Regions from separate parts of the Homo sapiens genome. Here all the other regions are linked to region 2. The links come from fine-mapping of genetic effects on gene expression. A gene starts in region 2. Each other region holds a variant in brackets. All regions are shown on one strand. Distances are between the middles of the regions. Region 1 overlaps ALMS1 (ALMS1 centrosome and basal body associated protein). Region 2 holds the start of ALMS1 (ALMS1 centrosome and basal body associated protein). Region 3 overlaps ALMS1 (ALMS1 centrosome and basal body associated protein).

Evidence for each region.
Region 1: its variant is fine-mapped to the expression of ALMS1 in whole blood (TOPMed, PIP above 0.99).
Region 3: its variant is fine-mapped to the expression of ALMS1 in whole blood (TOPMed, PIP 0.96).

Annotation. Positions count from the first base shown.
Region 1 is chr2:73,420,197-73,431,793 of GRCh38, forward strand. ALMS1 (ALMS1 centrosome and basal body associated protein) reads left to right here. Exons shown (of 23, transcript NM_001378454.1): 4 at 2,661-2,778; 5 at 4,234-4,706; 6 at 6,257-6,357. Among named protein-coding and RNA genes, the nearest start is that of ALMS1-IT1, 31 kb to the right of the region's middle. The variant A/G (reference allele first, on the strand shown) is at 6,511.
Region 2 is chr2:73,381,239-73,391,014 of GRCh38, forward strand. It overlaps ALMS1 (ALMS1 centrosome and basal body associated protein), which reads left to right and starts at 4,598. Exons shown (of 23, transcript NM_001378454.1): 1 at 4,598-4,954. The coding sequence starts at 4,631. It overlaps LOC105374804 (a long non-coding RNA gene), which reads right to left and starts at 4,443. Exons shown (of 4, transcript XR_007087053.1): 1 at 4,215-4,443. RefSeq lists enhancers at 4,357-5,106, 5,147-5,386 and silencers at 4,357-4,756, 4,917-5,086.
Region 3 is chr2:73,537,911-73,549,551 of GRCh38, forward strand. All of the region lies in intron 12 of ALMS1 (ALMS1 centrosome and basal body associated protein), which reads left to right. Among named protein-coding and RNA genes, the nearest start is that of ALMS1-IT1, 87 kb to the left of the region's middle. The variant T/G (reference allele first, on the strand shown) is at 6,033.

The DNA of each region.
Region 1 (11,597 bases), 40 kb after region 2:
CTAAGTGCCTCCTATGTGTTTGATGCTAGGGGTATATAGATGAAAGCTACCTCCTCTTCTGGGAAGGCAATCCAGTAAACAGAAAATAACAGTACCATGGGATTTGTATTATAATGGTGTAGAGCAGGAGTCTGCAAACTATAGCTTACAGGCCAAGTCTTGATTTTGTACTGTCCATCTGCTGAGAATGATTTTTGCATTTTTAAAGGATTGTAAAAACAAACAACAGTAGTATGTATGACCAACAAAACCGAAAATATTTACCATCTGACCCTTTATTAAAAAAGGTTTGCTAACTCCTAGAGTTTAAAATGGATACATAACTTAAAGGGAAGCTATTTTTCAAATTGATGTAAAAAAGAGCTTTCTAATAGAGCCATTTAATACTAAAAAAGGCTATATAACAACAACAAAAAGTGAGCTTCATGTCACTGCAAAATGTCTAGCAAAATTCTGTATTAGGATTTTAGCACTGGGGAGGAGATTGTACTTCGTGACCTAAAATGTTTTCTAATGTAAAGTTTTATAACTCTGGCTTCTCATTTACTATAGTTAGGGCAGAACATTTTAAATTATTGGAGTAGATTCCTGGATCTCATAGGCAGAGGAAATTTTATCATTGCTGTTTTGTTACGCATAAGTACTAACATTGTGATAAATAGGCTCTCGCCAATGGCAAATGTAATTGATGATGGCTGGTGCCAGAATGGTTAGATACCTCAAAAAAGAGGGATGCAAGCCAGTAACAGATATCCACACTTGAGGAAACAAGAAGCAGTTGAAAGCTGTAAGAAAAAGGCATGGCAAGTAAAATACACCACCTTCCCATCACACACACACAGATAATGTTGTACACTTGAGAATCATTAACTCTTCAGCTTTGGCCTGCTCCTTTAGCAAATACATTTGCCTATTTATGTGATTTAACTGTCCAACTCCACCCTGAGATATTCTTAAATATTTAAGGAGATGCTGAAATGCTGCTTGTAACTTACTTGTTACTTACTATTCCTTACTTATACTTAAATAGCTATTTTAGGTACTGAGGATTTCTGTAGGTTCTGAAACCTAGTTAGGGTTAACTCTAATTTTTTTTGAGAAAAGACTGTCAGATTCTTTAAATACTCAGCCTGCAGTTAACTGGAAATAGTAAATTTGCTTTACTTGCCCAAAGGTCCCCCTTGTAGCATCAGCTCTAGTGTATTTGGGGACTTTGTTAAAAACTCTTCATGAGTTTTAGAGGGGTGAAGGACTGTTACGGAGGTTTAAGACTGCTTCTCTGTGCCAAGACCAAAGAGGAACTGTACCAATTGTTCCTTGGTGGCAAAGGTTATTGTTACATATCAGTTTTTCATTTTTAATTAATTCATTCAGTAAATAAATAACTCTCTTTTGAGTACCTTTTAAGTGTAGCAGGTACTTTGCTAGGCACTGAGGATATAGCTATGGATAAAGTAGACACAGTTGACAATTTAGATGGGAAGTGGATAGACTGAAGATTAAAACAAGAGGGTGATGAATTATATGGAAGGTATGCAGGGTATATAAGCAGTGACAGTATGTGTTTTGACTAAGTAAAGGACAGATGACAACATGGTGAGCTCTGTGAACTCTAGATTTGCAGTAATTTCAGGGGGAACAGTAATGTGAGAGAGGAGTCCTCACTTTGTACACAGTGTTGCAGGCATTCTGAAATCAAGAAAGTATACTGATTAAAATAAGAATGATTTAAGTCAACATTCAGGAAATCACAAGAATTTTTTTTTCATTAAAGCAGCAGTTCAAACTTTTTGGGTAACAGGATTCTTTTACACTTTTAAAAATTACTGACAACTCCAAAGAGCTTTTGTTTATTTGGGTTATTGATATTTCCCACATTAGAAATTAAAACTGAAACATTTAAAATGTATTTATTAATTCATTGAAAAAGTACATATTTTATAAAAAATAACTTTTCCAATACAAAAATGTTTAGAAGTATGGCCATGTTTTACTTAAACAATTCTATAATGTCTGACATAATAGAAAACATCAAGACTCTCATGTCTGTTTCTGTATTCAATCTGTTGCTGTATCATATATTCTGTAGCTTCTGGAAAATGTCACTGTATCTTTTTGAGAGAATGGGAGTGAATAAGGCATATGATATCTTAATATTATTTTGAATAAAATTTTGACATTAGGTACCCCCTAAGAGTGTCTTAGGGCCCAGGAGCTCCTGTGCTATGCTTTGACATAACGGGTGTAGTCTATATTATGTAAGATGGGAAGAAACACTCATAATAGTTAAGAGCGTTTGCTAAAAGTTGAAATGCTTGGGTTCAAATCTCACTCTGGCATTTCAGCTACTTGAATGTGGACAAGTTACTTAATGCTTTGTAAGTTTTGTAATCATGTTTCCTCACCTATAAGATATATATAATAATACCTATCTTTCAAGGTTGTCATGAGGATTAAATGAAATATTGTGTGTTAAGCACCTGGACCTTGTCAGACTCTCAATAAATGGTAGCTGCTACTGCTGTTGCTTTTATATTATTATTCTAATGCTTGTAGAATTCTCCATATGGCAGCATATGTAGGTGCTTTAAAGTATTATATACGTAAGTAAATAATCAATTTTCAGCATTACCCAGCATTTAATATTTGAAACTTTACAGTCATACAAGATAGCTTTGCTTCTCCTGATTTGCCTTTGCTGACCTGTTTGACACAAGACCAAGAATTTGCGCCTGATTCTTTATTTCATCAAAGTGAACTAAGTTTTGCACCTCTGAGGTAGGATGATTTATTTGCATGTAACCTTTCTCACTTCTTGTTCTATGTTTTTACTAATATTAGTGACTTCAGGCTAAGGTGGGACTTTGAGGTGGGGCTTAGATACTCTTAGGACACGCCCTGAAGGTAACAAAGTCCTGTACTAAGACTTGATGCATATTAATTTGGCAGAGTAACGTATGTGTAGAGATGAACCAGATGACAGTAGTTTATTTAAAAATAATTCCTAATATATTCAGGCATTTCAGGCATATTTTAATTTAGAAGACACACTGGATTTTCCTTCTTATAAACCTCCCCATCTGCTGCCCATCATCTCTCTCCTCCCTCTCACCCTTATTCTGCAAAAAGCATTTATTTCTTGTTCACTAACTTGTTTGGCACTCTCATTTTGTTCAGCTGTTATTGAATGAGACTAGTTAGCTCTCCTTACCTTATAGGAGGTGTCAATATGAAGTAAGAAGATTTTTATGAACAGACATATCCAAATGAACAGATACTCCAAATTCATGTCCTTTAGAATAGTCATAATGGGAGAAAAGTCTGGAATTTTCAAAACATATTTGGAATTATTCAAGAATATGTTTTCTTCTTTTAGAATTGAAAACCCACCTTAAATTAAAAACTATAGATGTTTAGAAAGTAAAAAGTAACCTCTGTCCTTATACTATATATTTACCTGATATCACTTTTATGAAAAGTGATCTATACACATTAGATCATCAACTAATGATTAAGTTACTGTTGTGTTTTGGGAATAGATCACTTCTTAAGTGGTTTCTTTCTCTTTCTCTTTTTGTTTGTTTGCTTTTTTTTTTCTTTAGATGGAGTCTTGCTCTGTTGCCCAGGCTGGAGTGCAGTGGTGCCATCATGGCTCACTGTGACCTCTAACTTCTGGGCTCAAGCAATCCTCCTGCCTTAGCCTCCACAGCAGCTAGTACTACAGGCATGTGCCACCATGCCCAGCCAATTTTTAATTTTTCTGTAGAGATAGGGTCTTGCCGTATTGCCAAGGCTTGTCTTGAACTCCTGGCTTTAGGTGATCCTCCTGCCTCAGCCTCCCAGAGTGCTGGGATCATAGGTGTGAGCCACTGTGCCTGGCCTTGCATGGTTTCAAGAGCACAATAAATGATGACTAGTAAAAAAGTTAACGCAGGTTAAATGAAAAATCATGGTAGGCGTCATTATGAAAATCACATTCTGTGTCTATTGTTTTAGGAGAAGTCTGAGATAATATCAGGGTTATAGGGTGGTAGTTCACCTTTTAGTTAAAAAGAATTTGCTTTACTCAGTCATTAGCCATCTTAGAAGAGTCTGAAATTAGGAGAGCTGTGTTTTTCAATACACTTTTCAAATAAACTTGATTTCAGTGACATATGTATTTTTGTGTTAGTACTTAAAAATTAAATGTTTTTAATGTTATTTATTTATTTATTTTTAACTATATATTTTCAGGGGAATTCCTGATAAGTCTGAAGATACTGAATGGTCTTCTCGACCATCGGAAGTTAGTGAAGCTTTATTCCAGGCTACTGCAGAAGTAGCTTCAGACTTAGCAAGCAGTCGCTTTAGTGTATCTCAGCACCCGCTTATAGGCAGCACAGCTGTTGGGTCTCAGTGCCCTTTTTTACCTTCTGAACAAGGGAATAATGAAGAGACTATTTCGTCTGTTGATGAACTGAAAATTCCCAAAGACTGTGATCGTTATGATGATCTTTGTTCATATATGTCATGGAAGACACGAAAAGATACACAGTGGCCTGAAAACAATTTAGCTGATAAAGATCAAGTTTCAGTTGCAACTTCATTTGACATAACTGATGAAAACATAGCTACTAAAAGAAGTGACCATTTTGATGCTGCTCGTTCATATGGGCAGTATTGGACACAGGAAGATTCATCTAAGCAGGCAGAAACATATTTAACCAGTAAGTACCCTGATTCTTTTTCAGATTCATCTGACACAATTGATAAAAATAAAATTCCCAAGGGAAGTAACAATTTTAGTGTCCCCTTTTCCTATGTGCCATGGAACAAAGAGGGAACTTTGCACCACCCAGAAACGTGTGTAATCAGTAAGGACTGTTTTTCCTTTCCATGTGAAGTTGCTGCTCATCATCATCATCATAAAATGTCATATTCTTTCTTGTGTTGTTTGTTGGAAAGAAGAGGAAAAGGGGTTCCCTTGACTTCTGATAGTCATTATTTTGAGAATGTTTATTTAAGGGCTCCAGCTGAGATTGAGGTGAAACAAAAGATGGATTCTTTGGAGGGTTATGAAAGAAATGAAGAAGGTTTACAGAAAGAATCATCTCAATGTTTTGAACTAACGGAGACTAGAAATAATTTAGTATCTTCAGAAGTGCAACCCAGATTCTTAGAAATACAGTATATTAGGAATGTTATAGCTCCTGATAATTCTGTAAAAGTTTCAGAAGCACATGTACTCTCCAGGGGACATAATACCTCTAAAATGGAGGCTTCTGGTTGGATTGTTATATCCAACTTGGATGAGATATCAGAACAACTGTATTTTCAAGAGGAAAGAAACCAAAAGGGAACTTCTCTTTTTGGTGAGAAAAATATTGATGCTGCTGAAAATATAGCCTTTGAGGCAGTTATTGCCTCTATTGAGCCTTCTAAGAAAGAGAGTACAGTAAATGAAATCCAAGCTGACATCAATAAATATTTAACAGATGACAGCCGAGAGAGAGCCAAAAAATCCAGATCTTTCTCCATTAAATTATAATGATGAAACCTCTTTATTTGATAGGCTTAAACATCCATGCTATCAGTCTACTCCTGGGGTGTTTGAACCAGCAGCTTCAAAACCATTGTTGCATAAAAAGGGTAATAATGATAGCTTCCTATACTGGCATCCAAATTTAAAATTACCCCCTAATGCTCTTCAGAAAATGTTCATTAAGCCACTTTGTGTTATTCCAGAGCTTAAGTCATCTGCTTCTTTGAGTGAAAAATCTTACAACCAGGCTGTTGGTCTTGGCAAAACACAGTCAGCTTTATTTCAGTGTGATATAGGCAATGAACCATTTCTTCCCTTTGGGAAGATAAAGTCTGTTCCTTCTCTTGACCTTGCAGAGAAGGTAGGATCTTCAGATGTTATTTATCATGTGAAAGTATTAACTTCAGAATCTTTGGTTTTACAAGATTTAAAGCAGCCAACCTTTGAAGAAGTTGCAGATTACTCAAACTTTAATTTGGGTAAGGATGTTAACTGTAGAAATGCCATTAAAGGTCCACCTGCAGCTGTAGGAAGCAGCTTTTCAGCAAACTTGGTGGCATGTGATGCAAAGTCACAAGGTGCTTGTACCATTGACCAGTGATGCATCATTAATTGCAGTCGCCCAAGAGACATTGCTGAAAGCTGATATAGGCCAAGGTGAAAGTCCTTCGTGTGTGGGAGCTGAGCCTAGTTTTACTATACATACAATTATGCAAAATGACTCCTATTTTGTAGAGGGCCTGCAGGGGAAGGTTGAGTCTGACGTCATTACTCTGGATGGCCTAAATGAAAATGCTGTTGTATGCAGTGAAAGAGTTGCTGAACTACAAAGAAAGGTGAGACACAATAAAATGATAGTTGTAAGAAACGTGGCCTTTTTCAGTATTGTTTCAGGAAATGGTATTGTTTGTTTTTATTTTACTTTTTACTGTTTCCTGGGTACATGACCAATGTCATTTGACTGGTGAGTACATTGAGCTAGCAGCTTT[A/G]GAGAAATTTCATGGTGATCTAGAGATGCATGACAGCTCCCTGCACTGGCAGCCTACTTTACAACTACCATCTGAGAAGGAAAGCAATTTTGAAAAGCCTGTAAGTTTTTCTATTTGACATTTTTTTCTGGGCGGGGAGGGAATGTTTTATTTGAAAAATTTCCAAATTTTATTTGAAAATACTTTATTTGAAAAATTATATCCTTCAGTACCAGCTTGTAACTTGTACCTGTTCTTCATCTGATATCCAGGAATATGTTCCATTAGAGGTTGGTATAAAAGAAATGTTTATGTTTCATAGACTGTAAGACTTAGTTCTGTGGTGTCTTGGAAAAGGCATCCCATGGGGCTCCAGGCCTTTCATATTGAGGCAGCCTAACTCTTCCTAGTTGTGCCAGCAAGAGTCTTTAGACAGTGTTAAGATTAGGCTTATTCATGGGAACATCCAAAAGCTTGTACTTTGAATGTTTCCCTCTGGTCTTCAATGCACAAGCCTTGAAACAGTCCCTGGAATATTTAAGTATTTCTGTTTAGAAGCTCTTGAAAGACTTGACTTCAGAGGTGTCTTGAAAATTGTAAGACCCATGTTTGACCAGGAAGGATAATGAAGTGCTTAACGTCCAAACTGGCCAGTGTCTCTTCAAAGGGAAGTATCTCCTTCCCAAATGAGCAACATACTAATGTATATACATGTCTCTTCCCTCTCTCTATTTATATCATTATTACCATTGTGTGTGTGTGTACTAGAAACTGGCAACTCTAGGATGTCATAAAAATTTTATATCAGCCTTTTTTTTTTAAATTAAGTTCTGGGGCACATGTGCAGAACGTGCAGGTTTGTTACATAGGTATACAGGTGTCATGGTGGTTTGCTGCACCTATCAACCTGTCATCTACATTAGGTATTTCTCCTAATGCTATCCCTCCCCTAACCCCCTACCCCGCGACGGGCCCTGGTGTGTGATGTTCCCCTCCCTGTGTCATTCTTTTATAGAAGGCTTTTATTTGCTTGGATCCTTGGATCCCTTGGCATTAATGTTCCTCTGGTCCCGTTGAATGAATATCCTCTTTTGTTGTCTGGTACTGTAAGTCCCAAGGTGGGCCCTACTTCCTTGTGATATAGCCTTATATCCTGTTATTCATTAAATACAGTTAGATAAAATAGTGATGTACTTAATGTTACTTCTCTTTTCCTATGTATAAGATTGGTATGTTTTTGTAAAGCTCTATTAGTTTGGGTTACAACCACATTTAGACCTTTAGGTTCAGATTGTTGGTAGAAAATGAACAAAGATATTATGATGAACTTTTATTTATAATTTATTACATTTATTAAAGTTTTTTTAACACAGAATCACTAGGTTTATTTTCTTCAGTATTCCAAACTAGGCATTTTTTAATTTTAATCTGATAACTGGGGATGAAAATGATAGTTAACACTTTGTGCTCAAGTACTGTGCTAAGAGGTTACATGTATATATCAATTCGTTTTTGTCCTCTGTCAATCCTATCAAATAGAATTGTTAGAGATTATTATCATCCCTATTTTGCAATTGACACTTAGAGGATTTAGGAACTTGCTCATAATTATTCAGCAATTGGGGGAACCAGTATTTGAAACTAACCATATCTGTGTACTTAACCACCATACCATAAACTGTTCCCCCTCCCCCCACCTTTTAACTATTCTTGGTGAAACTAAGGTTAAGATTTTGCATTATTTTGGCAAGAGTAGAGGTTTTGAAGGAGATTGCCTAAAGTTGAGTTCAATAACAATGAGAAACAAAGTAACAACTTTTAAAGTGTTCTAAATTTTTAATACTACTTTTGTGACTTACATCAACCTTTCATGTAGATAAAATGTATTTTAAAAATAAAGATATATAGGTTCAGTTAATGTGCAGAGACTAGCTTTGACCACTGCTCCAAATTTTAATCTGTCCTTAAATATAGCCTGAAGTATTATTCTTTCAATCTAAGGAAGATGCTATTATTCCCTGTATTGTCTTTCAGTTGTAGCTCTATCTGTCTTAGTCTTAGATCTAGGAGTTATTTAATGTCAATATCAGAAAAGCAAGGAGCCAGATGTGGTAGTACTTTTTCTGCATGGCTTAGCTTGCTTTCAGGGGCTTGCTTACTCCTTGGTTTTTCCTTATGCTCCTCATCTGTGTCACAGAAGAGTCATTCATAGTTACTTGGTTCACTTTTATATCTACTCCTCATAAATGATTATTTGGGTATCCACGTATGTATGATGGAGCTTGGAACTGTGAAAAGAACATAGAGATTTTGAGTCAAAATCCAGTTCAGTTACTTTGTTAGCCTTGTGTCTTGAGCAAATGACTTCGGAGGATCACTTTCCTGATCTGCATAAGGAAATAGGAATAGTAATAACCTTATACATCGTACTATTAAATGGGGTAAGTTATGTAGCATTTATATAGTGCCTGGTTGTTAGTTCTCTTCACTTTGCTGAAACTAGACTACTAGAGTCTCTGGTGGTTTCCTACTTTCTATCATTATTTTGTTTTTCTTTCTCCTTTTTCTTGGTAGCAGCACATAATTAATATGCTTTTTTTTTTTTTTTTTTTTGAGGCAGAGTTTTGCTCTTGTCATCCAGGCTGGAGTGCAATGGCACAATCTCAGCTCACTGCAACCTCCATCTCCTGGGTTTAAGCAGTTGTCCTGCTGCAGCGTCCCAAGTAGCTGGGATTACAGGTGCCTGCCACTATGCCTGGCTAATTTTTTGTCTTTTTAGTAGAGACGGGGTTTCACCATGTTGGACAGGCTAGTCTCGAATTCCTGACCTCAGGTGATCCACCTGCCTCAGCCTCCCAAAGTGCTGGGGTTACAGGCGTGAGCCACCGTGCCTGGCCTAATATGCTATTTTAGTACCTCTTGTTTTGGCCATTTAGCTCTAAAAATTATTTAAGGTTTAAGCCTTAGATTTCTTTTCTCTCCCCTTCATATCCCCCCACCTTTGGAGACCTAGTTGCCTGTCTCTGTGTGGATGATTATCACCTCTGTTTTTATACCCTAATATTTGTCTAATTTATTTTGCATGTTTTCTTGTGAACATTGTCATCACCCCAAATTCAACTTGCTCTATAGCAAAATAACTCATGTTTTTCCTAAAATTAGACTGACTTGTAGAGTTCCTGAGTTTTTATGAAAGGTATTAGTATTTTTCTGGTTTCTTGGTCATCTTTCATTCTTTCTTCATTATTGATTAAACATTGGGAAGATAAACGAATCTTGATTTCTGTTTTCTCCTGGTTCTTTCCATTTTCAATTAGCAATGAAGATCTGCTGGTTTCTTAAATAAATACTTCTCATATTTTTCATTTTACATTTTCTTTTGTATTACCTACTTTTTTTTTTTTTTTTTGAGACAGAGTCTCCCACTGTTGCCCAGGCTGGAATGCAGTGGTGCGGTCTCAGCTCACTGCAAGCTCCGCCTCCCGGGTTCACACCATTCTCCTGCCTCAGCCTCCTGAGTAGCTTGGACTACAGGTGCCCGCCCCCATGCCCGGCTAATTTTTTGTATTTTTAGTAGAGACGGGGTTTCACCGTGTTAGCCAGGATGGTCTCGATCTCCTGACTTCGTGATCCGCCCGCCTCGGCCTCCCAGAGTGCTGGGATTACAGGCGTGAACCAACGTGCCTGGCCGGTATTACCTACTTTAATAGTTCTATATTTTGAAACTTTAACATAATGAAATTTTTTTGACGTCAAGCTTGTAATAAAAATTTTTCTTTCTGTGTTTGAAAGCTGTAGAAGAAAAACTGCTGTAAACTATAAACACACACTGTCTCTCACAAGTGTCTATATATTATATATGGTCATGCCACATAATGATATTTCAGTTAGTGACAGACTGCATATATGATGGTAGTCCCATAAGATTAAAATACTGTATTTTTACTGTACCTTTCCTATGTTTAGATACACAAATGCCACTGTGTTACAGTTGCCTACAATATTTAGAACAGTAACATGCTGATAGGTTTGTATCCTGGAAGCAGTAGGCTAGACCATATAGCCTAGGTGTGTAGTAGGCTACACAGTTGTAGGTTTGTGTAAGTCACTCTGTGATGTTTGCACAACAACAAAATTGCCTGACAGCACATTTCTCAGAACATACCCACATCATTAAGTGATCTATGACTGCATATTATATATATGCATATATATTTATATATATTTATGTGTATGTATATATGTGTATATATATAGCCTGTACTTCAGAGAAGTTTCCTGTAGGAGTGAGGTAATTGAAAACTATGAACTTTGTGCTATGTGGAGAGCAGGGCTTCTTAGCAGCCTTATCATTTTGAGTTGGATAATTCTTTGTTATGGTGGGAGGCGTGTTTCCTGAGTATTGTAGGATGTTTTGCATCATCCATCCCTGGCCTCTATTCACTAGATACTAGTAACATCCCCTCCCCTCACAAGTTATGACAGCAAAAAATGTTTCCAGGCATTGTCAAATGTCCCTTGATGGGTACAAAATCTTCACAAGTTGAAAAGTAGAGAAACCTGTATGGGCAGTAGATGTAGATATAGAAATAGATATGGAATGTTCATTTCCACACTTCACATGGCTTCCTAAGAATGTTCATTACTACACAATGAAAAATTGATGAAAGAGGATAGAAAAATTCATGCTTATGTACATTTTTAGACTTCATCCTGAGAAGATGTGACTGAAATAATCTTTTTAGGGAAATAAAGACAATCTAAAAATGATATATATTTTTATGTGAGGGTGCACTGTGAATTTGGTGAAAAGTTGTACATGTTTAGGTATTAATGTCACCAATATTGGTTTCTAATTTCTTTTCTAGCAAGAACTTGTGACTTGATGAAACATTAGGAACTTCTTTTTGAGCAGTTACCCTTTACTTCACTACCAATTTATAGTTTCCACTACTTTTGTTTTAAGAAGTTTGAGGACTTATGCTTGTTGGTAACCGATCACAGTTATAGTTCTTTGATACTCTCATTTTTCTTCTAAACATTTGTGAGTTTCTAGAAAATATTCCTGTTTTCTTTTTCCTTCTTACTGTTTCTTGTCCACAGTGCAC
Region 2 (9,776 bases):
ATACAGTGATGGGCTGGGCACAGTGGCTCAAGCCTGTAACCCCAGCACTTTGGGAGGCCAAGGCGGGTGGACTGCTTGAGCCCAGGAGTTCAGGACCAGCCTGGGAACCATGGCGAAACTCCATCTCTACCAAAAAAAAAAAAATTAGCTGAGCACGGTGGCACACACCTGTTGTTCCAGCTACTCAGGAGGCTGAGGTGAGAGGATCACTGGAGCTGGTGAAGTCGAGGCTGCAGTAAGCCATGATCGTGCCACTGCACTCCAGCCTAGGTGACAGCAAAAAAAAAAAAAAAAACAAACCACAGTGATGGTAGAGCTATAATTGATTTAAAAAAACAGCCATCAAATTAACTGGAAAAGGAGGGTGTTTGATGTGCACAGTAACGTTGTTTTTGTCTGTGCTTAGGCAAGGTTATGAAATGGTCTTGTCATGTCTCGTTTCTTCAGTCACAGAAAGACCATGTGTGATGTCGGTGTTCTGTGAGATTATTTATGCTCAACAGGAGAATATTGAGGGATGATGGTGAATGCCAGGCCAGCATGTGACAACCCTGAGGCTTAGTTACCTGTGTCAGACCAGTTCCCAGGCACCCTAGATTTATTTAGTGAGTCCTCCAGTTGGTCAAGGGTAGACAAAGTCAGGCCACAGGACCATTAATCTATGATATTCAGATTTTCACTATTGCTAAATTTATGCTGATCTGGAGGATGCAGTCTGTAGTTGGGTTAATTCCGCCTTCTGTTGTAGGATTTGTTGAATCATATGATATGACAATGGCTGTGCAGAAACTAGGGCTGTGGATAGGATACGTTGACCAAGTGCAAAAGAAGCAATTACCAGAAACAAAATGATTATCCATCTTTGTAAAAAGTCTTGAAGACAGGGACCCAGATTATAAAGTCCTGGCAATGAAAACATGCCCCAGAATCCAGCTGAGTCTGTTTTTAGGGAGCCAGGAGGATTTTCTCTTTTCAGTTTACTCATGTTCTACTGACTCTGTAGTATGTTCTACTGGCCCAGTAGTATGTGAGTATGGTGACAAGTGTTGCTAAATACAAACTCCTCCTTGGCCAGCTAAGAAGAAATCAAGGGTTATATAATTATCCATGAAAACTCTGGCTAAGGAATTCAAATTTAAGTGGTTTTCTGAGCTGCTATAGCAGAAGTTTTGCTATCTATGGGGTCTGCTAAGGTCAAATACCTCTCTTGGATCTGATCTCTTTCTGTTGTATTATCTTTGTTGTAGGAATTTCATTCACAGAGTACACATGAAAAATGAGTCAGTTATCCCTCCTGGGAGTTCTCCCAAGTAGTCTGTGATTGTGTGCTTGCTTCATTTTGTTGGTTTCTGGGTGTTCTTTTCAAAGAAACACAGTCTACTGGAGGGGTGGTAATTTTAAGCACTGGAGGGTCTCTAACAATTAGCTTCAATATAAAGGGTAAGTTAGTGGGCAAGCCAGATGTTCCCATAAATAAGTAGTACCCTAGGGGAGTACAGACTGCATTGGGAGGATAAGGGCTATTTAGCACATCAGGGACAAGCCAACTTTCTTTCCCTCAGGATAAGCAGATTTCTTGGATGAAGTTAAACAGGTTTCTCCAAAGCAGGCTGGAATGTTTTGGAAGAGAATGACCTGAGTAGTGTATAAAGAATAGCCCCAATATTAGTTTCTATTCCTGAAGGGCTAGGTTTTTCTCATAGGATTGTAATGACTTCAGGGAAACATTCTGTTGAAGTGTAGGTCAAGGTCCAATTTTTAGAAGACTGAGGTTTGGGATGAACTTTGTGGGGAATGCTTAAGTACCAGAAGTGACCTACAGAAGAAAATCTACTTGATGAAGTCTATGAAAGCACAGTTATTAAATTTTGTCAACAATTCCTTAAAAGCAGTAGCTACGGTTTGAGAAAAACACTCCAGAAAGTGTCTCTTTTCTTTTCTTTTTTTCCTTCCCTTTCCTTTCTCTTTCCCTTTCCCCTTTCCCCTCCTTTCCTTTCCTTTCTCTTTCTCTCTTCTCCCTTTCTCTCTTTCTTTTTTAGATTGGGTTTCACTTTGTTGCCCATTGGCACGATCACAGCTCACTGCAGTCTTGGACTCCTGAGCTTCAAGGACCCTCTTGCCTCAGCCTCCTGAGTAGCTGGGACTCCAGATACGTGCCACCATGCCCAGCTAATTTTTTATTGTTTTTAGAGATGGGGGTCTTGCTACATTGCCTACGTTAGTTAGACTCCTGGTCTCAAGTGATCTTCCCACCTTGGCTTTCTAAAGTGCTGGAATTACAGGTATGACCCACTGCACCTGGCCAAATAATGTTTACTTTAAGTAGTAGAACATAGGGAGTCAAAAGTAACAGGATGAAGATAAGGGTTATCTCCCCGAGAAATCAATTTGTTAGTTAATCAAGGGTGTCAAAATGCAATAAGCAAGATTAGTGGTAGGGTAAGAGATGCCAAGGAATCAGAAATTAATCTTGTCCTGTTGTCTTGGGTATAAACTGCCCATTTCTGCAGTAAGCAGCTTCTGGGGAAGTCCCAGGAATCTTCAGTTTGAGGTCTTCCAATAGTATGGGATGTCCGGTAGCCAGGAGAAAATGATGCATGTCTTTTTAGTTGTGTAATATGAATCCAGGGATCAATGTCTTCTAGTTTTACTCCTGGGTCAGTTGTTGATAGTACCTGACATTTTTTTTTCTTGCATTGAGGCTCAAGGGAAATTGTTTTCTAATGCTTTTTCAGAAGACCAAATCTCTAACTTCAGAAGCTGCTTAGGTGGGTGCTTTGAGAATGCAGCTTCCATCTGTTGTTGATAAAGCAGGAGTTAATCTTAGAAGTCTCCTGCAGCAATTAGTGATAACAGCTTATATTAGTAGCATCTAGTATTGGAAGTAATTCACAAATACATGAGGAAGCCTGTTATTAACTCAGAAGGAGATAACTTATGGGCCTTAGAATGGACTGACCTTATTGCCATCAAGGCAAATAGAAGTACTTTGGGCTTTGGAAGTTAGATGGAAGTTAGAGAACTTTGAAAGCTATTTTTTAGAATTCTATTAGTTCTCTTTATCTTTCCTGAAATTTGTGGATGCAAAAAGATAGCGGAGTTTCTAAAAAGGTAAAGCTTTACAGTTATTTAATATCAGTGAAATGTGTGTCCTCTTACTGGAGATAAACATTGAGATTTCACATTCAGGAATACAAAATTAATAAATTCTTTTCTACTATTACAGTAATAGGTCTCCGGCAAGGAGAACCCCTAAACCCCTTAAGAATAAATAACCCTAATGTACTCATAGTCCATTTAGAGGTGTTCAACAGAACTCCAAGACTGGGCTCCAGTTCATGTTCTACCCTTAAAGTTTTGCCAGGATTGGGTCATTGACAGGTAGGCAGGACATACATCCTTGGCAATAACCCTAAAATTGCCCCACCAACATTGGTTCAGCATCATTATCAATGTATCTCTACTATTGTGGGTAATACCATGAAGACTTTTTGCTGGACTCCACTTTAATTATGGCTATTTCCTTTGGTAACAGTGAAGCATCTCAAGATTATAATTATTATTTAAAATTTTAATTTAAAAATTTTCCCCATAGGTTATTGGGGGTACAGGTGGTGTCTGGTTACATGGCATCTTAAGATACTTTAATTTGCCATTCATTTCGTAGAGGTTCCTGAAGCGGTCAGGAAATCTTTGTTTTTAAAGCACTCCAAAGTCATTGACGAACCACCAAAACATATGTACTATCAGTATAAATATTTGCTCTGTTATCCTTTAACAGCTGGTTGGTCTAGGCCAGGGCAATTCCTACACTAACAGAGGACCTGGGATGGCATACTGAGTCAGCCACTTACTAGGTAAGAAACTTTGGGCAAATTAATTTTTTTAGCCTCAGATTCTTCATACATGAAATAGTAATACTTGTCTCACAGAACCGTGAGCATCTAATGAGTTATTGTACAATAACCAACCTATCACTAAGTCCTTCACATTGATTATTTCCTTTAATTATCACACCCATCCTATGCGATGGCCTATTATCATCGTTTTATAAACACAAAGTCACACCACTTTAAGTGGTGATGCCAGGATTCAAACTCCGATCTTTCTGATGCCAGTGCCCAGTTCTTAATCCCTCTAACAACCCGTGACACTTTTCCACGGTTAGGTTCAAGCGCCCACCATACAGCTTGACACTTTAGGAGATACTCAACCTTTAAAACTTTATAATTTGCATGTGTGATTATAACGGGTACGTCCTAGAGTTTGATCTCTTCTCTGTGCAGGGGCGAAACTCGACCCCAGCCGAGAACTACACTGTCCTTGCGCGGGGCCCTCTGCGCCCCGGAAGGCGCCCAGTCCCGGTTTATTGTGAGCTTACAGTACAGTTCGCAAGGTCCCGGCCGGTGACGGCGGCGAGGCGGCAACGTCGCCTGTAGCAAACCTCCGCCCTAAGGCGTTCCCGCCGGGCCTCGCGCGGCGTCCCTAGCAACGCGCGCGCGGTCTTCCGGCCCCGCCCAGGCGGGCGGCACTGCGCCTAAGCTGGGCCACAACCGCCAGTCAGGGCTCTCCCCTTCCCCTCCCTCCCCCCCTCCTCCTCCTCCTCTGCCGCCCAGAGCGAGACACCAACATGGAGCCCGAGGATCTGCCATGGCCGGGCGAGCTGGAGGAGGAGGAGGAGGAGGAGGAGGAGGAGGAGGAGGAAGAGGAGGAGGCTGCAGCGGCGGCGGCGGCGAACGTGGACGACGTAGTGGTCGTGGAGGAGGTGGAGGAAGAGGCGGGGCGGGAGTTGGACTCCGACTCTCACTACGGGCCCCAGCATCTGGAAAGTATAGACGACGAGGAGGACGAGGAGGCCAAGGCCTGGCTGCAGGCGCACCCCGGCAGGATTTTGCCTCCGCTGTCGCCCCCGCAGCACCGCTACTCGGAGGGCGAGCGGACCTCCCTGGAGAAGGTGAGGCGGGCCGGGGAGGGGTGTGGAGCCGCGGCGAGTTGGGGGTGGAGGCTGGGCCCCGAGCGCTCCGCCCGCCCGCAGGTCACGCCGCCTGACGGAGAAAACGCGCGCAGCTGAGGCTAGTAGGCGGCCCAGACTCCAGCCCAGGTGCCGGCCGGCTGCTCCGCGTCTCCCAGGCTTTGTGGCAAAGACTTCTCGTTTCCTCCCCCTCGGTGGGTCCTGGGCCTTTTGAACTCCCGTAGACGTTCAGGGGAGCCTGCATTCCCCGTGAGAAACGCTGAGAGAGGACCACGGGTGTGTCGAGCCTTGAAGGAGGGAAAAGGCGGTGTAGGACCGGAGCGAGTGGTTGCCTGGGGAGCATCTTGTTGGGGAGACAGTGAACAGATGAGCTTGACTGAATTGCAGGACTCCCCTGAGGGAGTAATGTGGATAATGTACACCGCGCGATCACTTAGTCTGGAGAGGCTCCCCGCGGGTTTTCCTCCCCTGGACCATCATTTGTAGCAATAAAGGGGTTCCCCAGCCGATAGGAGGGGCTTGGAATGCAGGAGGCTTGTGATGCGGCTCCAAACAGTCTGCAAAACTACAAAGCACAGATAATACACAATGGAGAAAGCCGATTTCATGGTAGACCCCCGAAGATCATTTTGAAAATAACTCTCCATTTAATTTGCTGCCCTTACCCCCCTTTTTTTAACTTACTGCTTTTCGAGGAGCAAGACCTGCCCTGCTCAGTACAGTAGCCACTGGCCACGTGTGGCTTTTTACATCTTAAAGAGAAAACTATTATAGTTTTGAGTAAGAGTTAAAAATAAATTAAATGAAAAATTCCATGCGTCTGTTCTTACCGGTTTTCAAGTGCTCAGCAGCCACACTAGGCTAGTGGCTACCATGTTGGACAGAGCAGATAATGGAACAGTTCCATCATCACAGACAGTGAAGGTGTAGAGTTTTGTCACTAATGAGCAGTAGTTGTTGTTTTGTCTGGTGAATATTCCAGGGGGTACTTAATTCATTGAACATGTATTATTAGAATTCACCATGTGCCACACATTGTGCTGGGTGCTAAGGAAAGCTTGGTGAACCCAAACATTTTTGGTCTCTGCCTTCCTTGTGTTCATGGTCTAGACAGGGAGGCAGACAGATTTCAGATGATCACATAAAGTGAAACTAATATATGTGCTAATATTCTATGAAAGCATAAAGTAAGATAATCTGGCCTTGTCAGTGAAGTTGGGAAAGCCTTCTTGAGGAGGTTATGATAGAGCTGATATCTGAAGACAGTTTAAGGTTAATCAGGCAAAGGGGAGGGAAAGAGCCGTCTAGCTGAGGGAAAAACACATGAAAAGGTACTGTTGATGAGAGAGAGCATGGCATTTTCCAGGACCCAGAAGCCAACGTGGTTTGAGCACAGACTGCAAGGCTTTGTGTGCTATGCCAAGGATTTAGGGGCTTTATCTCTGGAGCTTTGGGGAGTTGAAGAAAATATTTGAAACGAGGGGATGTATGATAAGTTAGGTGTTTCAGAAAGGTCAGGTGTATAGCAGAGTGTGGAACAGCTGTGATAGCAAGGTGGGATGGGGAGCAGTAGCCATAGGTCAAGGGCATAAATTAGGAGACCATTGCAGCATTGCCCGGCAAAAGATGATGAAAGTTTGGAATAGGGAAGTGTTGGTGGATACAGGGAAAAGTGGACTGATTTGAGAGATATTTAAGAGGCAAAATCATCATACTTAATAACGGATGGGATGTGAAAGGTGAAGTAGCCAGGTGTTAGGTTATTGTTTGAATGGTTGTGCCAATATTAAGATATGGCCAGATTTATGGTGGAGGTGGTGGCTGTGAGTGGGTGGTGGAATTGGTTGGGTGAGTCTTAAGATTATGAGTTTGGTTTTGAAGATTGAAGGAGAAGGCTGGGCTAGAGATTTCAAGTTGTAAGTCATTTACATAGAGACCATAATTAAAGCCACACTTGTTGACTAGGTCTTCTAACTTTTATTTTGTCCTGTGACTTCTTGCTTGAATAACTATTAATATTCAAACTTTATCTTGAAGCCTAGAGGAGGAGTTTTTTAAACAAAATTTTAATTTAATTTTAGATTTGGGGGTACATATGCACGTAATTAACATGGATATATTGCATAATGGTGAGGTTTGGGCTTCTAGTGAACCTCTCACCCAAATAATATACCTTTGTACGTGATAGTGTAACATTGTACTTGATAGGTAATTTTTCAGCCCTTCTCTCCTCCTTCTGGAGCCCCCAGTGTCTGTTTATTTCCATCTTTATGTCTGTGGGTACTTATTGTACCCATTTATCTTTATGCCTCTGTGTACCCATTGTACCCACTTGTCTTACCAGTGAGAGCATGTGGTATTTGATTTTCTGTTTCTGAATTGTTTCACTTGATAAATAGCCTCCAGGCTCCATCCATGTTGCTGCAAAGGACAGGATTTCATTCTGTTTATAGCTGCATAATATTCCACAATGTATATTAATACATACTACATTTTCTTTACCCATTCAGTTGTTGATGGACACTTAGGTTGATTTCATGACTTTGCTATTGTGAACGGTGCTGTGATAAACATATGAGCACAGATTTTTTTCTTTTTTTTTAATGGCGTCTAGCTGGTGTAGAACACCTGGGCTCAAGTGATACTCCGCCTTGGCTTCCCAAAGTGCTGGGATTACAGGTGTGAGCCAGTGTGCCTGGCTCAGATGTCTTTTTGATGAAATGATTTAATTTCCTTTGGAGAGATACCCAGTAGTAGGATTGCTGGGTCAAATGGTAGTTCTGTTTTGAGTTCTTCAAGAAATCTCCATACTGCTTTCCATAGGAGTTGAACAATTTACATTCCCAACAACAGTGTATACGTGTTCCCTTTTCTTCTCATCCTTGCCAACATCTGTTTTTTGACTTTTTAATAATAGCCATTCTGACTGGTGTGAGATGGTATCTCATTGTGATTTTAATTTGCATTTCTCTGATGCTTAGTGATGTTGAGCATTTTTTCATGTTTTTTGGCCGCTCGTATGTCTTCTTTTGAGAAGTGTCTGTTCAGTCTTTTGCCCGCTTTTTAGTGGGGTTATTTGTTTTTTCTTCCTGTTGATTTGTTTGAGTTCCTTATAGATGCTGGATATTAGTCCTTTGTCAGATGCATAGTTTGCAGATATTTTCTCCCATCCTGTAGGTTGTCTGTTTACTCTGTTGGTAGTTTATTTTGCTGTGCAGGAGCTCTTCTAGTTTAATTAAGTTCCATTTGTCTGTTTTTATTTTTGTTGCATTTGCTTTTGAGGTCTTAATCATAAACTTTTTTCCTAAGTATTCTTTAGGATTATTATAATTTCGGGCCTTACATTTAAATCTTTAATCTATCTTGAGTTAATCTTTGCATATGGTGAGAGATAGGGACCCAGAGGAGGAATTTTTAAGCTAACCCTCTTTTACTACAGCCAATGTGAGAAAATTATTTTCCTGTTTAATAATGAACTATCTTTTTTTTCCCCCGCCGAGATGAAGTCTTGCTCTGTTGCCCAGGCTGGAGTGCAGTGTCACGATCTTGGTTCACTGCAACCTCTGCCTCCTGGGTTCAAGCAATTCTCCTGCCTCAGCCTCCCGAGTAGCTGGGATTACAGGTATCCACCACCACGCCTGGCTAATTTTTGTAGTTTTAGTAGAGATGGGGTTTCACCATGTTGGCCAGGCTGGTCTTGAACTCCTGACCTGTGATCTGCCTGCCTCAGCCTCCCAAAGTGTTGGGATTAGAGGCATGAGCCACCGCGCCCGGCCTCTAATCGTGAACTATCTATGGGTAATAGAAAATCTTACTTCTGAGAGCCCAGAGTATTTTTTCCTCCCCACAGTTTTTTCTTTCCCCTGAGAAAAATTAGATATTTTCTTATTTACCTGAGAGAATATATGATAATATATAGAATATATAGATGATTTTCTGTATTAAAGGTAGATTTACAATGATACAAGGAGTGTTCAGATAATTTTTCCTTTAGTTCACTGGCATATTGAAACTTACTGGCATAGGTTGGAAAGTGTTTAAGGAAAAAATGCTTAGTATGTTTCTTGCTAGAAATTTATGAACTATGAAATTCTTAGATGTGTTGTATAACATCTAATGCTGCGTATTTAGAGGATGAGATCAAATAATAGGAAACATTAATTTCATCCAGTTTACTCTCAAGTTAAATGACAAAATTGTGTTATTCAATTTACTCTCATATCTCACTAGATAATAAGGGAGTTATAGTGGTGTTATATAAGGCAGTGATTAAGTTTGTAGTCCTGTTACTAAGGCTGAGTTAAACTATGATACTGTTTAAATTTGAAGCAAAATATGACCAGTCTTATAACTAAGTCTTTTTAAGAGGGAAGTGAGTGATTCAGAGCCTTATGTTGTTTTTATGCTGGTCCTACAGACCATTCAGGCACTTCTTGTAATTCCTTAACCTGAATTTCTGAGTTGTGCTGGGGAAGATAATTCAGTTCTCTGGGTTGGCATCACTAGAAATTCTTGGTCTCCAACTTTTAATTGGGTCATCAACAGTGCTTGGAAATCTTTTTTTTTTTTCTTTTTAAGATGGAGTCTCTCGCTTTTGTCACCAGGCTGGAGTGGCAGTGGCCCGATCTTGGCTAACTGCAACCTCCGCCTCCCGGGTTCAAGTGATTCTCCTGCCTCAGCCTCCGCAGTAGCTGGGACTACAGATGCGCGCCACCATGCCCAGCTAATTTTTGTATTTTTAGTAGAGATGGGGTTTCACCATGTTGGCCAGGATGGTCTTGATCTCTTGACCTCAGGTTATCCA
Region 3 (11,641 bases), 160 kb after region 2:
CATGAGTATCACTTGAACCCTCGAGTTTAAGGCTGCAGTGAACTATGATTGCGCCACTGCAGTCCACTCTGGGCAACAGAGTGAGACCATGTCTCAAAGAACAAAAAAACAAAAAAACAAAGGCAACAAAAGAAAAATATATATGGGAGACTTTATCAAAATTCAAAACTTTTGTACACAAAACCCAGTCAAAAGAATGAAAAGGTGACTCACAGCATAGGAGAAAATATTTGCAAATCATTTATCTGTTGAGAGATTAATACCTAAAATATGTAAGGAACCCTTACAACTCAACAACAATAACCCAAACAATCTGATTCATAAATGGGCACAGAATCTGATGGACATTTCTCCAAGGAAGACGTGCAAATAGCCAATAAACACCTGAAAATCTTCTCTATATCATTAATCATGAGGGAAATACCAAACAAAACCATAGTAAGATACCACTTCACACCCATTACAATCACTGTTATTTTAAAAAATAAGCGGAGAGAGCCAAGATGGCCGAATAGGAAGAGCTCCAGTCTGCAGCTCCCAGTGTGAGCGATGCAGAAAACGAATGATTTCTGCATTTCCAACTGAGGTACTGGGTTCATCTCACTAGGGATTGTAGGACAGTGGGTGCAGGACAGTGGGTGCAGCACACCGAGCGTGAGCCGAAGCAGGGCAAGGCATCGCCTCACCCGGGAAGCGCAAGGGGTCATGGAATTCCCTTTGCTAGCCAAGGAAAGGAGTGACAGAAGGCACCTGGAAAATCGGGTCACTCCCACCCTAATACTGCGCTTTTCCAACGGGCTTAAAAAATGGCACACCAGGAGATTATATCCCGCACCTGGCTCGGAGGATCCTACGCCCACGGAGCCTCGCTCATTGCTAGCACAGCAGTCTGAGATCAAACTGCAAGGCGGCAGCGAGGCTGGGGGATGGGCGCCCTCCATTGCCGAGGCTTGAGTAGGTAAACAAAGCGGCCGGGAAGCTCGAACTGGGTGGAGCCCACCATACCTCAAGGATGCCTGCCTGCCTCTGTAGACTCCACCTCTGGGGGCAGGGCATAGCCAAACAAAAGGCAGCAGAAACCTCTGCAGACTTAAATGTCCCTGTCTGACAGCTTTGAAGAGAGTAGTGGTTCTCCCAGCACACAGCTGGAGATCTGAGAACGGACAGATTACCTCCTCAAGTGGGACCCTGACCCCTGAGTAGCCTAACTGGGAGGCACCCCCCAGGAGGGGCAGACTGACACTTCACACGGCCGGGTACTTCTCTGAGACAAAACTTTCAGAGGAACGATCAGGCGGCAACATTTGCTGTTCACCAATATTCGCTGTTCTGCAGCCTCTGCTGCTGATACCCAGGCAAATAGGGTCTGGAGTGGACCTCCAGCAAACTCCAACAGACCTGCAGCTGAGGGTCCTGACTGTTACTAACAAACAGAAAGGACATCCACACCAAAACCCCATCTGTACGTCACCATCATCAAAGACCAAAGGTAGATAAAACCACAGAGATGGGGAAAAAACAGAGCAGAAAAACTGAAAATTCTAAAAATCGGAGCGCCTCTCCTCCTCCAAAGGAACGTAGCTCCTCACCAGCAATGGAACAAAGCTGGATGGAGAATGACTTTGACGAGTTGAGAGAAGAAGGCTTCAGATGATCAAACTACTCCGAGCTAAAGGAGGAAGTTCGAACCCATGGCAAAGAAGTTAAAAACCTTGAAAAAAGATTAGACGAATGGCTAACTAGAATAACCAATGCAGAGAAGTCCTTAAAGGACCTGATAAAGCTGAAAACCATGGCAAGAGAACTACGTGGCGAATGTACAAGCCTCAGTAGCCGATTTGATCAACTGGCAGAAAGGGTATCAGTGATGGAAGATCAGATGAATGAAATCAAGCGAGAAGAGAAGTTTAGAGAAAAAAGAATAAAAAGAAACAAAGCCTCCAAGAAATATGAGACTATATGAAACAACCAAATCTACGTCTGATTGGTGTACTTGAAAGTGACGGGGAGAATGGAACCAAGTTGGAAAATACTCTGCAGGATATTATCCAGGAGAACTTCCCCAATCTAGCAAGGCAGGCCAACATTCACATTCAGGAAATACAGAGAATGCCACAAAGATGCTCCTCGAGAAGAGCAACTCCAAGACACATAATTGTCAGATTCACCAAAGTTGAAATGAAGGAGAAAATGTTAAGGGCAGCCAGAGAGAAAGGTCGGGTTACCCACAAAGGGAAGCCCATCAGACTAACAACTGATCTCTCAGCAGAAACTCCAATCCAGAAGAGAGTGGGGGCCAGTATTCAACATTCTTAAAGAAAAGAATTTTCAACCCAGAATTTCATATCCAGCCAAACTAAGCTTCATAAGTGAAGGAGAAATAAAATCCTTTACAGACAAGCAAATGCTGAGAGATTTTGTCACCACTAGGCCTGCCCTAAAAGAGCTCCTGAAGGAAGCACGAAACATGGAAAGGAACAACTGGTACCAGCCACTGCAAAAACATGCCAAATTGTAAAGACCATTGAGGCTAGGAAGAAACTTCATCAATCAACTAACGAGCAAAATAACCAGCTAACATCACGATGACAGGATCAAATTCACACATAACAATATTAATCTTAAATGTAAATGGACTAAATGCCCCAATTAAAAGACACAGACTGGCAAATTGGATAAAGAGTCAAGACCCATCCGTGTGCTGTATTCAGGAAACCCATCTCATGTGCAGAGTCACACATAGGCTCAAAATAAAGGGATAGAGGAAGATCTACCAAGCAAATGGAAAACAAAAAAAGGCAGGGGTTGCAATCCTAGTTTCTGATAAAACAGACTTTAAACCAACAAAGATCAAAAGAGGCAGAGAAGGCCATTACATAATGGTAAAGGGATCAATTCAACAAGAAGAGCTAACTATCCTAAATATGTGTGCACCCAATACAGGAGCACCCAGATTGATAAAGCAAGTCCTTAGAGACCTACAAAGAGACTTAGACTCCCACACAATAATGTGAGGACTTTAACTCCCCACTGTCAACATTAGACAGATCAATGAGACAGAAAGTTAACAAGGCTATCCAGGAATTGAACTCAGCTCTGCATGAAGCAGACCTAACAGACATCTACAGAACTCTCCACCCCAAATCAACAGAATATACAGTCTTCTCAGTACCATACCACACCTATTCCAAAAGTGACCACATAGTTGGAAGTAAAGCACTCCTCAGCAAATGTAAAAGAACAGAAATTATAACAAACTGTCTCTCAGACCACAGTGCAATCAAACTAGAACTCAGGATTAAGAAACTCACTCAGAACCGCTCGACTACATGGAAACTGAACAACCTGCCCCTGAATGACTACTGGGTACATAACGAAATGAAGGCAGAAATAAAGATGTTCTTTGAAACCAGTGAGAACAAAGATACAACATACCACAATCTCTGGAACACATTCAAAGCAGTGTGTAGAGGGAAATTTATAGCACTAAATGCCCACAAGAGAAAGCAGGAAAGATCGAAAATTGACAGCCTAACATCACAATTAAAAGAACTAGAGAAGCAAGAGCAAACACATTCAAAAGCTAGCAGAAGGCAAGAAATAACTAAGAGCAGAACTGAAGGAAATAGAGTCACAAAATACCCTTCAAAAAATCATTGAATCCAGGAGCTGGTTTTTTGAAAAGATCAACAAAATTGATAGACTGCTGGCCAGACTAATAAAGAAGAAAAGAGAGAAGAATCAAATAGACGCAATAAAAAATGATAAAGGGGATATCACCACCGATCCCACAGAAATACAAACTACCATCAGAGAATACTACAAACACCTCTATGCGAATAAACTAGAAAATCTAGAAGAAATGGATAAATTCCTCAACACATATACCTTCCCAAGACTAAACCAGGAAGAAGTTGAATCTCTGAATAGACCAGTAACAGGCTCTGAAATTGAGGCAATAATCGATAGCTTACCAACCAAAAAAAGTCCAGGACCAGATGGATTCACAGCCGAATTGTACCAGAGGTACAAGGAGGAGCTGGTACCATTCCTTCTGAAACTATTCCAATCAATAGAAAAAGAGGGAATCCTCCCTAACTCATTTTATGAGGCCAGCATCATCCTGATACCAAAGCCTGGCAGAGACACAACCAAAAAACAGAATTTTAGACCAATATCCCTGATAAACATTGATGCAAAAATCCTCAATAAAATACTGGAAAACCGAATCCAGCAGCACATCAAAAAGCTTACTCACCATGATGAAGTGGGCTTCATCCCTGGGATGCAAGGCTGGTTCAACATTCGTAAATCACTAAATGTAATCCAGCATATAAACGGAACCAAAGACAAAAACCACATGATTATCTCAATAGATGCAGAAAAGGCCTTTGACAAAATTCAACAACCCTTCATGCTAAAAACTCTCAATAAATGAGGTATTGATGGGACATATCTCAAAATAATAAGAGCTATCTATGACAAACCCACAGCCAATATCATTACTGAATGGGAAAAAACTGGAAGCATTGAAAACTGGCACAAGACAGGGATGCCCTCTCTCACCACTCCTATTCAACACAGTGTTGGAAGTTCTGGCCAGGGCAATCAGGCAGGGGAAGGAAATAAAGGGTATTCAATTAGGAAAAGAGGAACTCAAATTGTCCCTGTTTGCAGATGACATGATTGTATATCTAGAAAACCCCATTGTCTCAGCCCAAAATCTCCTTAAGCTGATAAGCAACTTCAGCAAAGTCACAGGATACAAAATCAGTGTAGAAAAATCACAAGCATTCCTATACACCAATAGCAGACAAACCGAGAGCCAAATCATGAGTGAACTCCCATTCACAATTGCTTCAAAGAGAATAAAATACCTAGGAATCCAACTTACAAGGGATGTGAAGGACCTCTTCAAGGAGAACTACAAACCACTACTCAATGAAATAAAAGAGGATACAAACAAATGGAAGAACATTCCATGCTCATGGGTAGGAAGAATCAATATTGTGAAAATGGCCATACTGCCCAAGGTAATTTATAGATTCAGTGCCATCCCCATCAAGCTACCAATGACTTTCTTCACAGAATTGGAAAAAACGACTTTTAAAGTTCATATGGAACAAAAAAAGAGCCTGCATCGCCACGTCAATCCTAAGACAAAAGGACAAAGCTGGAGGCATGACGCTACCTGACTTCAAACTATACTACAAGGCTACAGTAACCAAAACAGCATGGTACTGGTACCAAAACAGAGATATAGACCAACGGAACAGAACAGAGCCCTCAGAAATAATGCCGCATATCTACAGCTATCTGATCTTTGACAAACCTGAGAAAAACAAGCAATGGGGAAAGGATTCCCTATTTAATAAATGGTGCTGGGAAAGCTGCCTAGCCATATGTAGAAAGCTGAAAGTGGATCCCTTCCTTATACCTTATACAAAAATTAATTCAAGATGGATTAAAGACTTACATGTTAGACCTAAAACCATAAAAACCCTAGAAGAAAACCTAGGCAATACCATTCAGGACACAGGCATGGTCAAGGACTTCATGTCTAAAACACCAAAAGCAATGGCAACAAAAGCCAAAATTGACAAATGGGATCTAATTAAACTAAAGAGCTTCTGCACAGTAAAAGAAACTACCATCAGAATGAACAGGCAACCTACAGAATGGGAGAAAAATTTTGCTATCTACCCATCTGATAAAGGGCTAATATCCAGAATCTACAATGAACTCCAACAAATATACAAGAAAGAAACAAACAACCCCATCAACAAGTGGGCGAAGGATATGAACAGACACTTCTCAAAAGAAGACATTTATGCAGCCAACAGACATGAAAAAATGCTCATCATCACTGGCCGTCAGAGAAATGCAAATCAAAACCACAATGAGATACCATCTTACACCAGTTAGAATGGCGATCATTAAAAAGTCAGGAAACAATAGGTGCTGGAGAGGAGGTGGAGAAATAAGAACACTTTTACACTGTTGGTGGGACTGTAAACTAGTTCAACCATTGT[T/G]GAAGTCAGTGTGGCGATTCCTCAGGGATCTAGAACTAGAAATACCATTTGACCCAGCCATTCCATTAACTGGGTATATACCCAAAGGATTATAAATCATGCTGCTATAAAGACACATGCACAGGTATGTTTATTGCGGCACTATTCACAATAACAAAGATTTGGAACCAACCCAAATGTCCAAGAATGATAGACTGGATTAATTAAATGTGGCACATATACACCATGGAATACTATGCAGCCATAAAAAATGATGAGTTCATGTCCTTTGTAGGGACATGGATGAAGCTGGAAACCATCATTCTCAGCAAACTATTGCAAAGACAAAAAACCAAACACTGCATGTTGTCACTCATAGGTGGGAATTGAACAATGAGAACACATGGACACAGGAAGGGAACATCACACACTGGGGCCTGTTGTGGGGTGGGGGAAGCGGGGAGGGATAGCATTAGGAGATATACCTAATGTTAAATGACGAGTTAATGGGTGCAGCACACCAACATGGCACATGTATACATATGTAACAAACCTGCACGTTGTCACATGTACCCTAAAACTTAAAGTATAGTAAAAAAATAAATAAATAAAAAAGCAAAGAATGGAAAATTATCAGTGTTGTCAGGGACATGGAGAAATTGGAACCATTGCTTATTGCTGGTGGGAATGTAAAATGGTATAGCCATTACGGAAAACATTGTGGCTATTCCTCAAAAAATTAAACATAGAATTATAGTATGATCCAGTAATTCCACTTTTAAATATATACCCCAACAAAGTGAAAGTAGGATCTTCAAGAGCTATTTGTACACCCATGTTCATAACAGCATTATTCACAGTGGCCAAGAGGTGGAAACAACCCAATGTCTATTGATCTATGAATGGATAACAAAATGTGACATATATGTGTAATGGAGTATTATTCAGCCTTAAAGAGGAATGAAATTCTGGTACATGCTACAACATGGATGAACTCTGAAGACATTAGGCCAACTGAAATAAGCCAGTCTGCTTATATGAGGTACCTAGAAAAGTCAGATTCATGGAGACACAAAGTAGAATTGTGTTTACTAGGGGCTGGGGCTAGGGGGAGTGGGAAGTTACTATTTAATGGGTACAGAGTTTAAGTCTGGGAAGATGAGTAGGTTCTGGAGATAGATGGTAGTGATGGTTACATAACAGTGTGAATATACTTAATGCCACTGAAGTGTACACTTAAAAATGATTAATTTTTTGTGGTTTTTTTTTTTTTTTTTGAAACAGAGTCTTGCTTTGTTACCCAGGCTGGAGTACAGTGGCACAATCTCAGCTCACTGCAGCCTCCGCCTCCCAGATTCAAGCAGTTCTCCTGCCTTAGCCTCCTGAGTAGCTGGGATTATAGGCACCCACCACCACGCCCAGCTAATTTTTGTATTTTTAGCAGAGATGGGGTTTCACCATGTTGGCCAGGCTGGTCTCAAACTCCTGACCTCAAGTGATCTTCCTGCCTCAGCCTCCCAAAGTGCTGGGACTATAGGCGTGAGCCACCGCACGTGGTCATGGTTACATTTTATGTATATTTTACCACAGTTAAAAAAACTTAAGAAGTTACCAAAAATCTTAATTGAATTTTAAAAGTAGATGTCTATGTTCCAAATCAGGGTTGAGTATACGAAATTAGCAAAGTAACAGAACGAGAAATACAGGAAACTTTAAGATAGCATAAACAGTTAAATCAGATGAGTGGAATTCGGTGAGATGTCTTTAGCTGTGATAAATAATTTTAGCATATGTTGATATTGTCTCATGCATGTATTTAACTTAAGCAAGTTCAAATAAATATACTTAACAAAAGAGGAGAGAAAGAATTTTAAAAGTGCAGGTGTTTTGTGCATGCACTCTACCCTTTATGAACATATGACTACGGAAGAATATGTAATGAAAGATGGGAAACTTCATTCTCAAAATTAATTGTAGTCCTCGTTTGCCTTTTGTAGTGTAGGCATCTTATCTTGCTTATTTGGGTATGATTCTAGAGTTTGAAGAAATGTCTTTTTGGTACAATATCAGATACTTCATCAGGTGCTCAGATTCAGGTGCAGTGCTATGTTACAAGCTTGGAGGAAAAAGTGGACCCTCATGGGTTTCTTGAGCAGACACGATGTCAATTTCAACATATGCCTTCCTAAGGTACCTTCAAGGGTGATTTTGACCCTCTATAGCAAGGTTTTCACCTCACATGCTGACTTTAAACCCTGAATTCCATTTAAAATGTATCTCTACTTTAGTGAAAAAATAGTAATGAGACTGTATATGGTATGATCCCTGTAAATGTTCACTTAGTAGGATATATAACCAAGGTTTAGTTGGGTTTTCTTTTATTGTTTCCTTCATACTTTCCTGAATTTTCTACAATGATCAGGTTGTTTTGTTTGTTTGTTTGTTTTTAATGATGGGAAGCTGTCAGCTCACGTTCATTTGTTTATTCAAACAATAGGTATTAAAGATGTTACTGTGTTCCACGCAGATACACTGTGGTAGGTGTTACAATTTCAGTATTGCTCAAAATAAACTATAATGGAGTTTATGTTCACGTTGGTTGACAGATATTAAACAAATAAACCATAAATAAGTACGTAATTACAAGTGATAAATGCTAAGAAAATAAGAAGAGTTCCAAGATAAACAAGTAGACCCAGTTTTGTTTTACGAACTTATGAAGATCTTTTCCAGGAAGAAACTTTTGAGCTGAACTCTAGAGGATGGGAATGAATTAGGTAGGCAGAGAGTGGAGTGTGAGAATGTTCCGGCGAGAGGGAAGAAGATGGGGAAAGCCCCTGAAGCAGAAAAGAGCTTGATGCATTTGACAAATGGAAAGAAGGCAGCGTGGGTTGAAATTCCAACAAATTTAAAGATCTGATTGGTTTTTGTAGTGATTCATGAATCAGGCAACATCCCATTCTATAATATGGAAAGGGTGCACTGGGCATGGGAGAGAGTTGGTTCTGGTAAGGTAGCCAGACCAGGAACAAGGAAACACAATACAGACAGTCCCCAATTTACAGTGGTTCCGTTGAACTATTTTTTGACTTTATGATGGTATGGAAATGATACACATTTAGTAGAAACCGTACTTCAGTACAGTATTTAATAAACTATATGAACTATTTGATACTGTATTATAAAATAGACTTCATGTTAGATGATTCTGCCCACCTGTAGGCTATTGTAAATGTTCTGATTATGTTTAAAGTAGGCTGGGCTAGGTTATGATGCTTGGTAGGTTAGGGGCATTAAATACATTTTTGACTAACAGTATTTTCAACCTATGATGGACTTACCAGGACATAACTACATTGTAAGTGGTGGATCATCTGTAATACCAAAAAAAGCATATTGATTAACATCAGGTTACTTACCTGGTAAAGATTAAAGCAGAGATAAGTTCCTTTTTACGCCAGCTCAGGGTGACTGGCCCCTTTTTCAGTTAGTTGCTGTGAATCTCTTGTTTTTAGAAAAAACTGGTCCATTTTGGAACTTTCCTTCTTTCTTAAAGTTTCAGTTGGATTGTATGGCATTTAGTACAAGTGACTACATTTTGGTTTGGTCTCTTGGGGCTTAGTGCAGGAGCTCAGTCTAAAACAATGGACTCCCATAAATTTTATTTAACAGGGTAGAGCATAGTGATGGGTAGATATGGTTAAAGATAGGTGGGTTCAAGATCATGCAGGATCTTATCAACTGTATTAAAGTGTTCGGATTTTATTCTAGTACTACTGCAATTATGGTTTGATTTATACTTGTAAAGTTTATTCTTGCCACTATATGGAGAAATGGTTTATAGATGGGAAGGCGGAGAGCCATGGCGGGGCGGGTTAGAGTGCAAGTAGAGACACCAGTTAGTTAGAAGGCTGTTGCTTTAGACAGTACCAGAGATGGTAGCATGAGTATCACAGTGTTATCTATAGAGATAGGGAGAAATGGACAGTCAGCATCCTTTTAGAAATAGTTTCTCCTAGATTTGGTGATAGGAGTATGGAGAGTGAGGGAGAAGAGCGTGAAAAAAATGTCTGGCGTGAGCAACTAGGTGAATAGAGGTGCCATTTACTGAGGTGGAGATTGAGGAAAAAGCAGATTTGGGGAAGATGATCAAAATGTCTGCTTTGGACATGTTAAAAATGAGATTCCTATTATACATCCACATAGAGATGTTGGGTCTACAATTGAATGTAGGCAGAGTTAATTTACACATGTTAAGGTAATAGTGCCACATATAAGGTGGCATTATTCACATTATAAATATATACTTTTATGAAAACATACAGATGGGCATGAATATTCCAGATCTTTAGTTAGAGTTCTGGAGCAATAATGTTAACTCTTGTGCTGCCCCAAACATAAATCTATACTCGCACATACTATAGCTATGCACAGGTACAGGAAAATAAGTATATGTACATTCACTGACACGCACACATGTGTGGCTGCACTCTCTCAGCTGCCTCTCACCTCCTCTGAGGTTGATTCTCTTGCTTATTCACCCACTGCTCTCAGGGATGTAATTGTTCCTCACCTGACTCTGAACTTGAAAGGGTCATCTCTCTTGGAGAACGAGGGGTGGTGGTGCAGACTGTGCGTGCACATGCTGCTGCTGGTGTGTACTCCCTGGGAGAATTTGTGAAAAGAATGACCACCATTTACAGTTGTTTGTGTTGTACTACAATATATAGTAACTTAAACATTTTGATTTGAAGAAGACACATCTTTTCTAATTTCCATAAAAGTGCTGTAAGAGCTAGCCGTGTCCCTGAATGCTGGAGTCGGATGCTCAGAAGAAAGGTACTCTTGGGCAATGGTACATTATTTGTTGGTCATCAGCATATACCTTGGTGGTCGATAAGTTTACCTAGGAAGAGAAGAGAGGCCAGTTCCGACTCCTTAAGGAACTCCACCATTGAGAGATTTGGTAGAAGAAAATATAAAAAATAAGTTTCCGGAGAGGTAAGAGGCAAATAAGAGAAAGTGATGTTACAGAAGTTGAGAAGAACCCAATATAATCTATTTGGCCCAGAAGGCTTGGTGTTTTCCTTGCAGTCTGTCCTGCAAAACTCTTCAGGGCTTACTGTGCACTGTACTAATGATACAGGTACTTACCCAGCTCTTATTGCCATATACATACTAGGAGCTCAGGAAATAGAGGATCTTAGAAAAATCATCTCATAGGAGATTAGTATAAGCCTTTATATGTCCAGAAATGTTCTTTTGCCTGTTAGATGTGGCATGGATTATAGATTAATTTATTTTATCAAGGAATGTGGGAATATTGAAATATATTTTAAAAGAAAATTAAATACTTTCAAATCTTTTACTTATCATCTGTCATTTTCCATTCAGTGTTTTGTCTTTTGTATTGTCAGATTAATCTTCTGGAAACATAGCTAAATATATTATTATTTTGTTGAAAAATCTTCCGTTATGTTGCATTTTATATACAATAAAGTTTATACTCTTCAGCTTGGGATCCCATGCACTGGTGAATTTTGTCCCAAACAACTATTTTTTAATATCTTCTACCACTGTCCTTAATGTATTCTGCAATCCAACCTGACCATAAAGTGTCCACTATTTTT